2 linked regions of the Homo sapiens genome follow. The protein of the gene in region 1 purifies or fractionates together with the protein of each later gene. This does not show direct contact. Each region holds a gene or a part of one and is shown in the gene's direction. Other genes may lie near its edges.

Evidence for each region.
Region 2: the proteins of HARBI1 (region 1) and NAIF1 purify together in Homo sapiens (affinity purification with mass spectrometry; 2 studies listed by BioGRID and IntAct, with this or other methods). This does not show direct contact.

What each region holds. Positions count from the first base shown.
Region 1 is NC_000011.10:46,614,207-46,621,466, reverse strand, and holds the start of HARBI1 (putative nuclease HARBI1), read left to right. Parts: upstream 1-4,239; 5' UTR 4,240-4,343; exon of another isoform or gene 4,344-4,973; intron 4,974-5,085; 5' UTR 5,086-5,229; coding exon 5,230-5,899; intron 5,900-7,260. UniProt on the Homo sapiens protein: Transposase-derived protein that may have nuclease activity. Does not have transposase activity.
Region 2 is NC_000009.12:128,060,440-128,064,320, reverse strand, and holds the end of NAIF1 (nuclear apoptosis-inducing factor 1), read left to right. Parts: intron 1-420; coding exon 421-893; 3' UTR 894-3,088; downstream 3,089-3,881. UniProt on the Homo sapiens protein: Induces apoptosis.

The sequences.
Region 1 (7,260 bases):
GGAGAAGCTTTCACAGTTCTGAATCCACAGCCTGCTGCCAGTACACACCGATAACTCTTCCCCCTAACTCTGAAGTAGACAAATTCATCATTTTATAAACTACAGACTTCATGTAAAAAGAAAGTATCAACAACTCAAAATAATAAACAAATATGGCTGGGCGCGGTGGCTCACATCTGTAATTCCAGCACTTTGGGAGGCCAAGGTGGGTGTATCACGAGGTCAGGAGTTGGAGACCAGCCTGACCAACATGGAGAAATCCAGTCTCTGCTAAAAATACAAAAATTAGCCGGGCGTGGTGGCACGCACCTGTAATCCCAGTTACTCAGGAGGCTGAGGCAGGAGAATCGCTTGAACCTGGGAGGCAGAGGTTGCAGCGAGCCAAGATCACACCACTACACTCCAGCCTGGGCAACAGAGCAAGACTCCGTATCAAAAAAAAAAAGAAAAAAATGTAAAATGATTCTTAACTATTTCTTTACTATTTCTTTCACATGTATGAATCAAAAGTGAAAGCAGCATTTTCCAAAACAGCAATACTAAGTTATTACTTCTTTCATTTTATTTTTCTGCTCCACAGGAGGTTTCTATAAGTTATGACTTCTATGAATTCTTGATTTACCTTTACTTTTACTGAGGAGACCCTGTTAAGTCAACCATGCACGTTAATTGAGTTGTTTTTCTTTTTCTTGAGATGGAGTTTCACTCTTGTTGCCCAGGCTGGAATGCAATGGCATGATCTCGGCTCACAGCAACCTCTGCCTCCCCAGTTCAAGCGATTCTCTTGTCTCAGCCTCCCGAGTAGCTGGGATTACAGACATGCGCCACCACGCCCAGGTATTTTTGTATTTTTGGTAGAGACAGGGTTTCTCCATGTTGCCCAAGCTAGTCTCAAACTCCCGAACTCAGGTGATCCGCCTGCCTCAGCCTCCCAAGGTGCTGGGATTTCAGGTGTGAGCAACCGCGCCCAGCCCAATTGAGTTGTTTTTCTAAGCAGTGGTAATTCACATTCTCATCCCTTCTCTTATGACCAAGGGCATACAAAAAAATACCAGGATAAGAGAGATTGCCAGGCCTGGCGCGGTGGCTCACGCCTGTAATCCCAGCACTTTGGGAGGCCAGGGCGGGTGGATCACCTGAGGTCAGGAGTTGGAGACCAGCCTGGCCAACTCGGTGAAACCTCATCTCCACTAAAAATACAAAAACTTAGCCAGGCGTGGTGGCGGGCGCCTGTAATCCCAGCTACTTGGGAGGCTGAGGCAGGAGAATTGCTTGAACTCAGGAGGGGGAGGTTGTTGCAGTGTGCCGAGATCATGCCACTGTCCTCCAGCCTGGGCAACAAGAGTGAAACTCCATTGCAAAAAACAACAACAAAAAACACAGACAAATTGCCTATGTAACCTATATTGGTCCTCAGAGGAATTTTTTTTTTTTTTTTTTGAGACAGAGGGGCGCTGTCTCCCGGGCTGGAGTGCAATGGCGTGATCTAGGCTCACTGCAACCTCCACCTCCTGGGTTCAAGCGATTCTCCTGCCTCAGCCACCCGAGTAGGTGGGATTACAGGCGCCCAACACTACGTCCAGCTAACTTTTTGTATTTTTAGTAGAGACGGGGTTTCACCTTGTTGGCCAGGCTGGTCTTGAACTCCTGACCTCATGATTCGCCTGCCTCGGCCCCCCAAAGTGCTGGGATTACAGGTGTAAGCCACCCTGCCCGGCCCCTTCAGAGGATTTTTAATAAACTGGCCCACATTTACTCTTCAGTTAAAAGCAAGAAATCGGCCAGGAGTGGTGGCTCATGTCTGTAATCCCAGCACTTTGGGAGGCCAAGGCGGGTGGATAACCTGAGGTCGGGAGTTCAAGAACAAACAGCCTAACTAACATGGAGAAACCCCATCTTTACTAAAAATACAAAATTAGCTGGGCGTGCTGGCACATGTCTGTAATCCCAGCTACTCAGGAGGCTGAGGCAGGAGAATCGCTTGAACCCGGGAGGCAGAGGTTGCAGTGGGCCGAGTTCCCGCCACCGCACTCTAGCCTGGGCAACCAGAGTGAAACTCCGTCTCAAAAAAAAAAAAAAAAAAAAAAAAAAAAAGCAAGAAATCTACCTTCCAAGGACATTAAAAAAAAATCAGCTAATTATTTAAAATAACCTTTAAATCCCTTTAGGGACTTAAAATCCTTTTAAATATTTAAAACCCAAACTTTAGAAAGGTTTGATTCCCTCTGGGCAGCCTCCTTTGCATTCCTCCTGGCTACAGTACCTCTATTCTCTCGCAGAATATTTTCAGTTTTTATTGGTTTCCACAATTTGATAGGAAGCAATGACCAGCAACTCTATGCACTCTCCTCCACTAAGCACATGCAGGAAAAATGACGGTTTATGTAAATTCATCTTACTTAGCTCCACACCCCATGTTGGAAGTTACTTTCGAATATTCCACACCTAAAGTTCAAGTAAACTTCCTTCGAGATTAAGCTCCTGGGCCGGACTCTGTGGCTTATGCATGTAACTCCAACACTTTAGAAGGCTGAGGTGGGAGGATTCCCTGAGCCCAGGAGTTTGAGATTAAAGTTAGCTATGAAGGCGCCACTGTACTCCAGCTTGGGTAACACAGCAATACCTTATCTCTAATAATAATAATAAAAATTTTAAAATCTAAAAAACTAAAAGACTTCTCCTGAGCTGATAAATGGAGAGTTGAAAACAACAAAAAAAAAACCTCATAATTGAGCTGGAGCCACTACATGCACACATGAAAAGGACTAACAGTCATAAAACAACACACAAAATCTGGAAGCTAATTTAGTGTAAAGGAAGAGCTTGTTGTTTCTTATTATAATACATCTCCCACTAAAGGTGTCCAATAAATTCTATCACCTTAGGAGATGAGTTTTAAACTAAGTGTAATGAGAAAATAGGTAATTTTTTAAAATCTCTTTTTTCTTTTTGGCTGCGGGGTGGCCAGAGAACGAAGAAATACCAAAAGTGAAATGCTACGCTGAATTGACCAGGCTAACTGGGAACTCACTGGAAAAGTGAAAACTGGGAAGAATTAGTGATGAGCTCAAGAAGGTGCTTAGCCACTTACCCAGAGATTTATTTAATGAGAATGGATCACAGGTTTCCACAGGTCGTTCCACTGCCAGTAAGAAGACAGTCGTGAACCATGGGTCCCTTTTTTCACTAGTCAACAGTCACCCTCACCTACACGCGGAGTACATATTTGGCACTCAGCAAATCTTGATTGAATGAAAACCTACCTCACTCATATTGGCACCCAACCCCGGAGTTATGGCCCCCCAAATTACCTCCAAAACGCCTGACGACCTAACCCAAGGAGCTGAAAAAGTGGAGAGGAAAGCTCTGGGGTGGAGGGGATTCTCTGCCAAACAAGCAGGGGCCAACGGGGCCTAGACCAACTCAACTTCCCACAGAAAACTCAGGGGCCCAGGGGATTGAACCGTGGCTAATCCCTTCTACTTCCACGAAGCAGCAGCCAAGGGGCCGCAGATCCACAGCCTCCCACCCGGGGGCGCTGAGAGATCTTGGGGTATCCCCCGCAAAAGTTAGTACCTGCGAAGCTGCGGCACAAAGAGTGGTTCCGGGCTCTCATTACGGAGGCCGGGACCTGGGACCGACCAGCCGCGCCTCCTGGCTGAGGGTTCCGCGCTCCGGAGCTGCAGTGACCGTACACGTCGCCGATAGACACCTAAGGCTTCAGAAGGGTCCTGGCTCGCAGGCCCCAGACGTTTTGCTCCTAAGACTCCGCGAGTTGTCGCACCCACGTCGACTGGCGCTCTTCAGTGCTTCCCTCACTGGTTAAGCGGTCACTCCCGCCTTAAGCCCAGCAGCCGGTCGCTTCCCGGCGCCGCCATCGTTAGTGTTTGTTTTCATCCGCTTCGGTAATGGCCGGGGGGGGGGGGTGAAAGAGGGCTACGGGGGAAATCCAGATGCCTAACCTTAGTCGCACTTTCGCTACAGTACGGACGCCCTATTTATTCTTTTAGTCCTCAAAATATCCATAAAAGTTGATTTTCATTCCACGTAAGCTTTCTTCTCCAATCTTTCTAAGCTACTCAAGATAAAACAAAGACGGAAAGGCGGTGTTTGAGAGAGAGAGAGAGAGACCGTTTGGGCCGCGTGTGGAATGTGCGGAGATGAACCGCAGGTAGCCGCGGCAGCGGCAGTGAGGGCGCGGCGCGGGGCGGGCGCTGACGCGGAAGGGGCGGTGCCGCTGTTGCGCGCCGTGGCGGCCTCTGTGCAGTCGCCGGTTCCGGAGGAGGGCCCAACCCGGCTGGGTGGGTGGGAAGTGTGGCTGGTAACCTGGCAGCCGCGGAGAGGTGGGTGACGGGCCTGGGCTAACTGAGTGGCCGGCGCAATCAGACTTTGACATCCGTTTTTAGGGTGCCCTTTAAAAGTGGCAGAGTCGCTTCCCAAACCTGGTTCGGCCAGCCTCTTTTTCGCTCCCGACTTCCAATGTGTCTGGTCTTCCGTACTTCCTGGCCCTCAGGTTCACGATTTGGAGTTCTTGGAGTGAGGGAAAAGCCTTTTGTTACAGCACACAGTGTACGTCCATAAGGCTGGGTTGTGGACTTTGGTTGTTTTTTTTTTTTTTTTTTTTTTTTTTTTTTTGCCCCTTCTTTTCTTGTTAGACTGGTTTGAACACCCCAGCATCTGTCCTGTATTTGTCAGGTGAAACCAGAAGTCTTTGGATAATGAAACCCGTGACCAATTCTTACCCAAGGTGGTTATGACATATGTCAGCTGCTTCTTGGCCTATATAGTTAGAAGCCGACCTCTTTTACCTTGTGAATAATTATGTCATCACCTCCATTATTCTTTTGGTGTTCTCAATTGAAATGCCAAGCATTAAATGAGCCACAAAGATTGAATTCCCATTATCCTTGAATCAGAGCAAGCCTGTCGTGCAGCCATGAGTTAGTGGAGAAAAATCCGGAGTTGTAAGTACAGTACGTTTTGCCTCAACAAAATGGAAATTTGTAGAAAAGGAGCTGCTCCAGCCTTTGAGTCACTTTAAAGTCTTTGGTAGGTTCCTAATGTTTTTTCTTTTAACATTTACAGAGAGAAGATTATAAATGGCAGAGCCATTTAACTGTGGTTAGCTGTTGGATTCTGATACTTTCTTAAAAATACGTTCTTGCACCAACATCTTCATTGGGAACAGTTCAGAAAAAGCAAAGAGGAGAGCCAACATTCACATTTACCATGGCTATACCAATAACAGTGCTTGACTGTGACCTCTTGCTATATGGCCGTGGTCACCGGACATTGGACCGTTTTAAGCTGGATGATGTGACTGATGAATACTTGATGTCCATGTATGGGTTTCCACGGCAGTTCATTTATTACTTGGTGGAGCTCTTGGGGGCGAATCTTTCTAGGCCTACTCAGCGATCCAGGGCTATTAGCCCAGAGACACAGGTCCTTGCAGCATTGGGTTTTTATACCTCAGGTTCCTTCCAGACTCGGATGGGAGATGCCATTGGAATCAGTCAGGCGTCTATGAGTCGTTGTGTTGCCAATGTCACTGAAGCACTTGTGGAAAGGGCCTCACAGTTCATTCGCTTTCCAGCTGATGAAGCCTCCATTCAGGCTCTGAAGGATGAATTCTATGGGTTGGCAGGGATGCCAGGGGTGATGGGGGTGGTTGACTGTATCCATGTGGCCATCAAGGCACCAAATGCTGAAGACCTCTCCTATGTGAACCGAAAAGGCCTGCATTCTTTAAACTGCCTGATGGTGTGTGACATTAGAGGGACACTAATGACCGTGGAGACAAACTGGCCCGGCAGCCTACAGGACTGTGCTGTGCTGCAGCAGTCTTCCCTCAGTAGTCAGTTTGAAGCGGGTATGCACAAAGATAGCTGGCTTCTGGGTAAGTTTGCAAGTGTGAATTTTCATTTTGTTTGGAGGCATAGAAAAGTTATGTAGGCTGGGGGCGGTGGCTCACACAACCCCAGCACTTTGGGAGGCTGAGGCGGTAGATCACCTGAGGTCAAGAGCTGGAGACCAGCCTGGCCAACATGGTGAAATCTTGTCTCTACTAAAAATACAAAAATTGGGCATGGTGGCAGGCGCCTGTAGTTCCAGCTACTCGGGAGGCTGAGGCAGGACAATCGCTTGAACCCAGAAGGCAGAGGTTGCAGTGAGCCGAGATGGCGCCATTGCACCCCCACCTGGGCAACAGAGCAAAAACTCCATCTCAAAAAAAAAAAAAGAAAGAAAGAAAAGGGACCGCACGTGTAGCTCATGCCTGTTATCCTAGCACTTTGGGAGGCCGAGGCAGGCAGATCACCTGAGGTTGGGAGTTTAAGACCAGCCTGACCAACATGGAGAAACCCCGTCTATACTAAAAATACAAAATTAGCCGGGCGTAGTAGCGCATGCCTGCAATCCCAGCTACTCGGGAGGCTGAGGCAGGAGAATCGCTTGAACCCGGGAGGCGGAGGTTGCGGTTAGCCAAGATCGCGCCAGTGCACTCTAGCCTGGGCAACAAGAGCAAAACTCCATCTCAAAAAAAAGAAAAAGAAAAATTATGTAGTGGAGTAGAATGAGATATGGCAGTCTGTAGAGCTGAGTCTCAGTCCTGTCAGTTTTTTATGAGACCTCAGGTGAGAATTTTCTTAGCCTTAATTTTTAAAAAATCAACATTTAATAGACATTATTAAAACTTTAAAGCATACTGTTAGAGCCAGCACAGTGGCACGTACTAGTACAACTGGTAATTGTAATTCCAACTATCTGGGAGGCTAAGGCAAGAGGATCACTTGAGCCTGGACCTTGAGACCAGCCTGAGCAAGATAGCAAGACCCTGTCTCCAAAACAATTAAACTTTTTTTTCTTATTTTATTTTTATTTTTTTTATTTTGTGTAGAGGCAGAGTCTCACTATGTTGACCAGACTAGTCTTGAGCTCCTGGCCTCAAGCTATCCTCCCATCTGAGCCTCCCAAAGCTCTGGGAATATGGCTGTAAGCCACCACACCAACGTAAAAAAAAATTATTATTATTATTATTATTGAGACAGAGTTTTGCTCTTTTTGCCCAGGCTGGAGTGCAATGGTGCGATCTTGGCTCACTGCAACCTCCGCCTCCCAGGTTCAAGCAATTCTGCCTCAGCCTCCTGAGTAGCTGGGATTATAGGCATGCGCCACTATGCCCAGCTAATTTTGTATTTTTAGTAGAGACGGGGTTTCACCATGTTGGTCAGGCTGCTCTCGAACTCCCAACCTCAGTTG
Region 2 (3,881 bases), on another chromosome or scaffold:
GCGGATCACGAGGTCAGGAGATCGAGACCACGGTGAAACCCCGTCTCTACTAAAAATACAAAAAATTAGCCGGGCGCAGTGGCGGGCGCCTGTAGTCCCAGCTACTCGGGAGGCTGAGGCAGGAGAATGGCGTGAACCCGGAAGGCGGAGCTTGCAGTGAGCGGAGATCGCGCCACAGCACTCCCGCCTGGGCGACAGAACGAGACTCCGTCTCAAAAAAAAAAAAAAAAAAAAAAAAAAAATTCTGAACCCCTTAGATTCTAGATTTATATGTGAATAGCTATGCAGCCAGGGGAGGCCTGGATTCCCCTTTATGTCCCTCCAGGACAGGACTTTATGGCCTCCTCCCCACCCCATACAGCCAGCTTTATTCCTTCCAGAAAGTGACCTCCCTTGGCCTCTGTTCTTTCTACTGTGCAGTCCCCACAGAGACCACCTATCACACGCTGGAGGAGGGCGTGGTGGAGTACTGCACGGCTGAGGCGCCCCCACCTCTGCCACCAGAGACCCCTGTGGACATGATGGCCCAGCATGCAGACACGTCGGTCAAGCCGCAAGCGCTCAAGAGCCGCATTGCTCTCAACTCCGCCAAGCTGATACAGGAGCAGCGGGTCACCAACCTGCATGTGAAGGAGATCGCACAGCACCTGGAACAGCAGAACGACCTACTGCAGATGATCCGCCGCTCCCAGGAAGTGCAGGCCTGTGCCCAGGAGCGCCAGGCCCAGGCCATGGAGGGCACACAGGCTGCCCTGAGCGTCCTCATCCAGGTCCTCCGGCCTATGATCAAAGATTTCCGCCGCTACCTGCAGAGCAACACAGCTAACCCGGCCCCCGCCTCTGACCCTGGGCAGGTGGCCCAGAATGGGCAGCCAGACAGCATCATCCAGTGAGGGCAGGGGTCAGGCCAGCCTTCTGCCATGATGGGATGAAAACTCCATGGACTTGTAAGTGGGTCCTGTGATTGGCCTTGGCCTTAGACCGGCCACGTGCACAGCTCCCTCTTTAATAAACGCTTAGGGGTTGCACTGTTTTTGAGAAGAGGAATTTGTTGGGCTCCTGGGACCCAAACTCATACTCCCCCTACTTGAGCTGCCTTGCTAAGATCCAGAAGATTGGTTAGCAGGGGGTCACGTGTGCATGTGATGGGACATGTGTTGTCATGACCCCGGGCTTGTGACATGACCCAGCCTTGGTCTTGGACAACTGTAAGGAACAACACAACGGGCTGTCACTGGGGGCCGTCACCCAGCCTGGGTCTCTACTGAGCTGCCCAACCCCAGGTGCCATCCTTTCGAGTAGGGTAATGTCACTGATGCTGGCAGTTGAGCAATAATATCTTCCTCCTTTGGGAGGTAGTGTGACTGAGGAGGAAACCCCACCCTTTTCTCCTCACTGTGCCTCAGTTCTCAGGGGACTCCAATGACTGTTGTGCTCTCCCCCGACCCCACCCCAGGCACAGCGCAGGCCCTTGTTAGGTAGTGTGCTGGGACGCCTCCGTAATACATGCAGTGTGCAGCCAGTCTGGCTCAGGAATGCTGTGTATGGTGGGGACGGTTTGGCCACTCTCTGGTTTTCAACAGCATCTCTGGGCAGCCCTTTGGTGGTTTGTCCCTAGAGCTTTTGACTCAGGTCAAGCTTTGGATGCTGTAAATTTTTGAGAAAGCCAACTAGTGTGGAAGCTTGCTGCCCCACTGCAGTGGGTCTGAGTGACCTGTTGGCTTTGTGCGGAGGCTTGCATCCAGCCAGTTGTATTTATTCTGTGTGTGAACCCCTCCTAGGAAGGCCTCCAGGAAGGCTGCCCTGTGGCCACACCCATCCTCCTTTCCTCTCTGCTGACTCCACATTTCCAAAATTCAGTGCAAAAAAAGCCCTGCTGAGCATCACATGCTGGACTCTTCCCCTGCCACACCGCTCAGTGCCTTCTGTTCTCTTGAGACTCCCTCTGAGTAGCTGAGTGAATCCAAAGCCATAATTGACCCTGAACGTAGGAGGAGGAAAAGGCGAAGCTGACCTAAGAAGTGGGACCCTGGCCGGGCGAGGTGGCTCAAGTCTGTAATCCCAGCGCTTTGGGAGGCCGAGGCGGGTGGATCACGAGGTCAAGAGATCAAGACCATCCTGGCCAACATGATGAAACCCCGTCTCTACTAAAAACACAAAAATTAGCTGGGCGTGGTGGCACACGCCTGTAGTCCCAGCTACCCGGGAGGCTGAGGCAGGAGAATCGCTTGAACCCAGGAGGCGGAGATTGCAGTGAGCCGAGATTGCACCGCTGCACTCCAGCCTGGCGACAGAGCGAGACTCTGTCTCAAAAAAAAAACAAAGAAAAAACCAAAAAAACAAATGGGACCCTTTGGATTCTATGCTCAGGGAAGAGCAGGCAGAGCCTTGGAGTGCTGAAGGAGGTGCTGTTCCCTGTTCCATCTTTACACTTTCTCTTCTGAGATGTCTGTAAGGATTTTACCCAGATGCCATTTGTCTGTTTCATTTTCAGACTCACCATCAATTACCAAGGCCCTTGCATCTCCCCAGATCGTTTCCCAAGTTTGGCGATTTGCTGTCGGTGCCTCAGCCACATATGACCAATGGTTACAACTCAGGGCTCCAGACCTCAGCTAAAAAGAGAAGACGCTGCCCTCCTGGGCACGAACGTTTAGAATGCTCAACTCCTCTATTGTGACCACAGGAAGGTGGCCCTGAAGATGCACCGAAGACAGCTGGGAGGTGACTGCTGTACTGTCAGCCTCTCTGTGGAGGCATTCGTGCAGTGCCAGCTAAAAGGGAGGTGAAGGGGGATATCGGACCCAGCGAGGGAGTTGCTGGTAGAAGGAAAGCTCTTCTCAGTGTGGCTGGATTAAGAGCAGCCTAGCAGCTTGGGCACCTCCACTCTGTGCGGTCTGATGGCCCCAGCAAGGTCGCTGCAGGGACTTCCTGAGGACTTGGTTTGGTTTTTTTCTGGGGTTGGAAATCTGAGCCAATATTGTGTCTGTTCCATTTGGGTATGAAGAGGAAGTCTGGATCACTTAAACTGACTAGTTATTTCCGGGTCATAATTTTAAATTAAAGACATATCACTTTTTTATACACACATCTCTGTGTCTTTATTGCTTATATATAGAAGAGAACCAGGGACTGGCAGACGATGGCCCACAAACTCAAATCAGGCTCACCACCTATTTTTATAAATAAAATTGTATTGGAACACAGCCACACCCATTCATTTATGAACCTGTGGCTTTTTTTTTTTTTTTTTTTGTACCACCAAAGCAAGAGTTGAGTAGTTACAGAGACATCTGGCCCACAAAGCCAAAAGTGTTTACTCTCTGACCCATTTACAGTAGAAGTCAGTCTATTCCTGGTTTAAGGCAGTGTTTGGGACTCTTAAGAATTACCTGAGGCAGGCCAGGCACTGTGGCTCATGCCTGTAATCCCAGCACTTTGGGAGGCCGAGGTGGGCAGATCACGAGGTCAGGAGTTCGAGACCAGCCTGACCAACATGGTGAAACCCCGTCTCTACTAAAAATACACAAATTAGCCGGGCGTGGTGGCATGCACCTGTAATCCCAGCTACTCAGGAGGCTGAGGCAGGAGAATCACTTGAACCCGGGAGACAGTGGTTGCAGTGAGCCAAGATCATGCCATTGCACTCCAGCCCAGGTGACAGAGCAAGACTCCGTCTCAAAAAAAAAAAAACAAAAGAAAAAAAAAAAGAATTACCTGAGGCATTTCTTAAATATACCCAATCGCAGGCCTCACTCAAAACCTGGAGGGAGGACTCTATGCATTGTAAACAAGCCCTCAGTACAAGCCCTCAGTAATCCTGATACTTTCTGAAGGTTAAGAATTTTTTTTTTTTTAAAGACTGGATCTGGCCAGGTGTG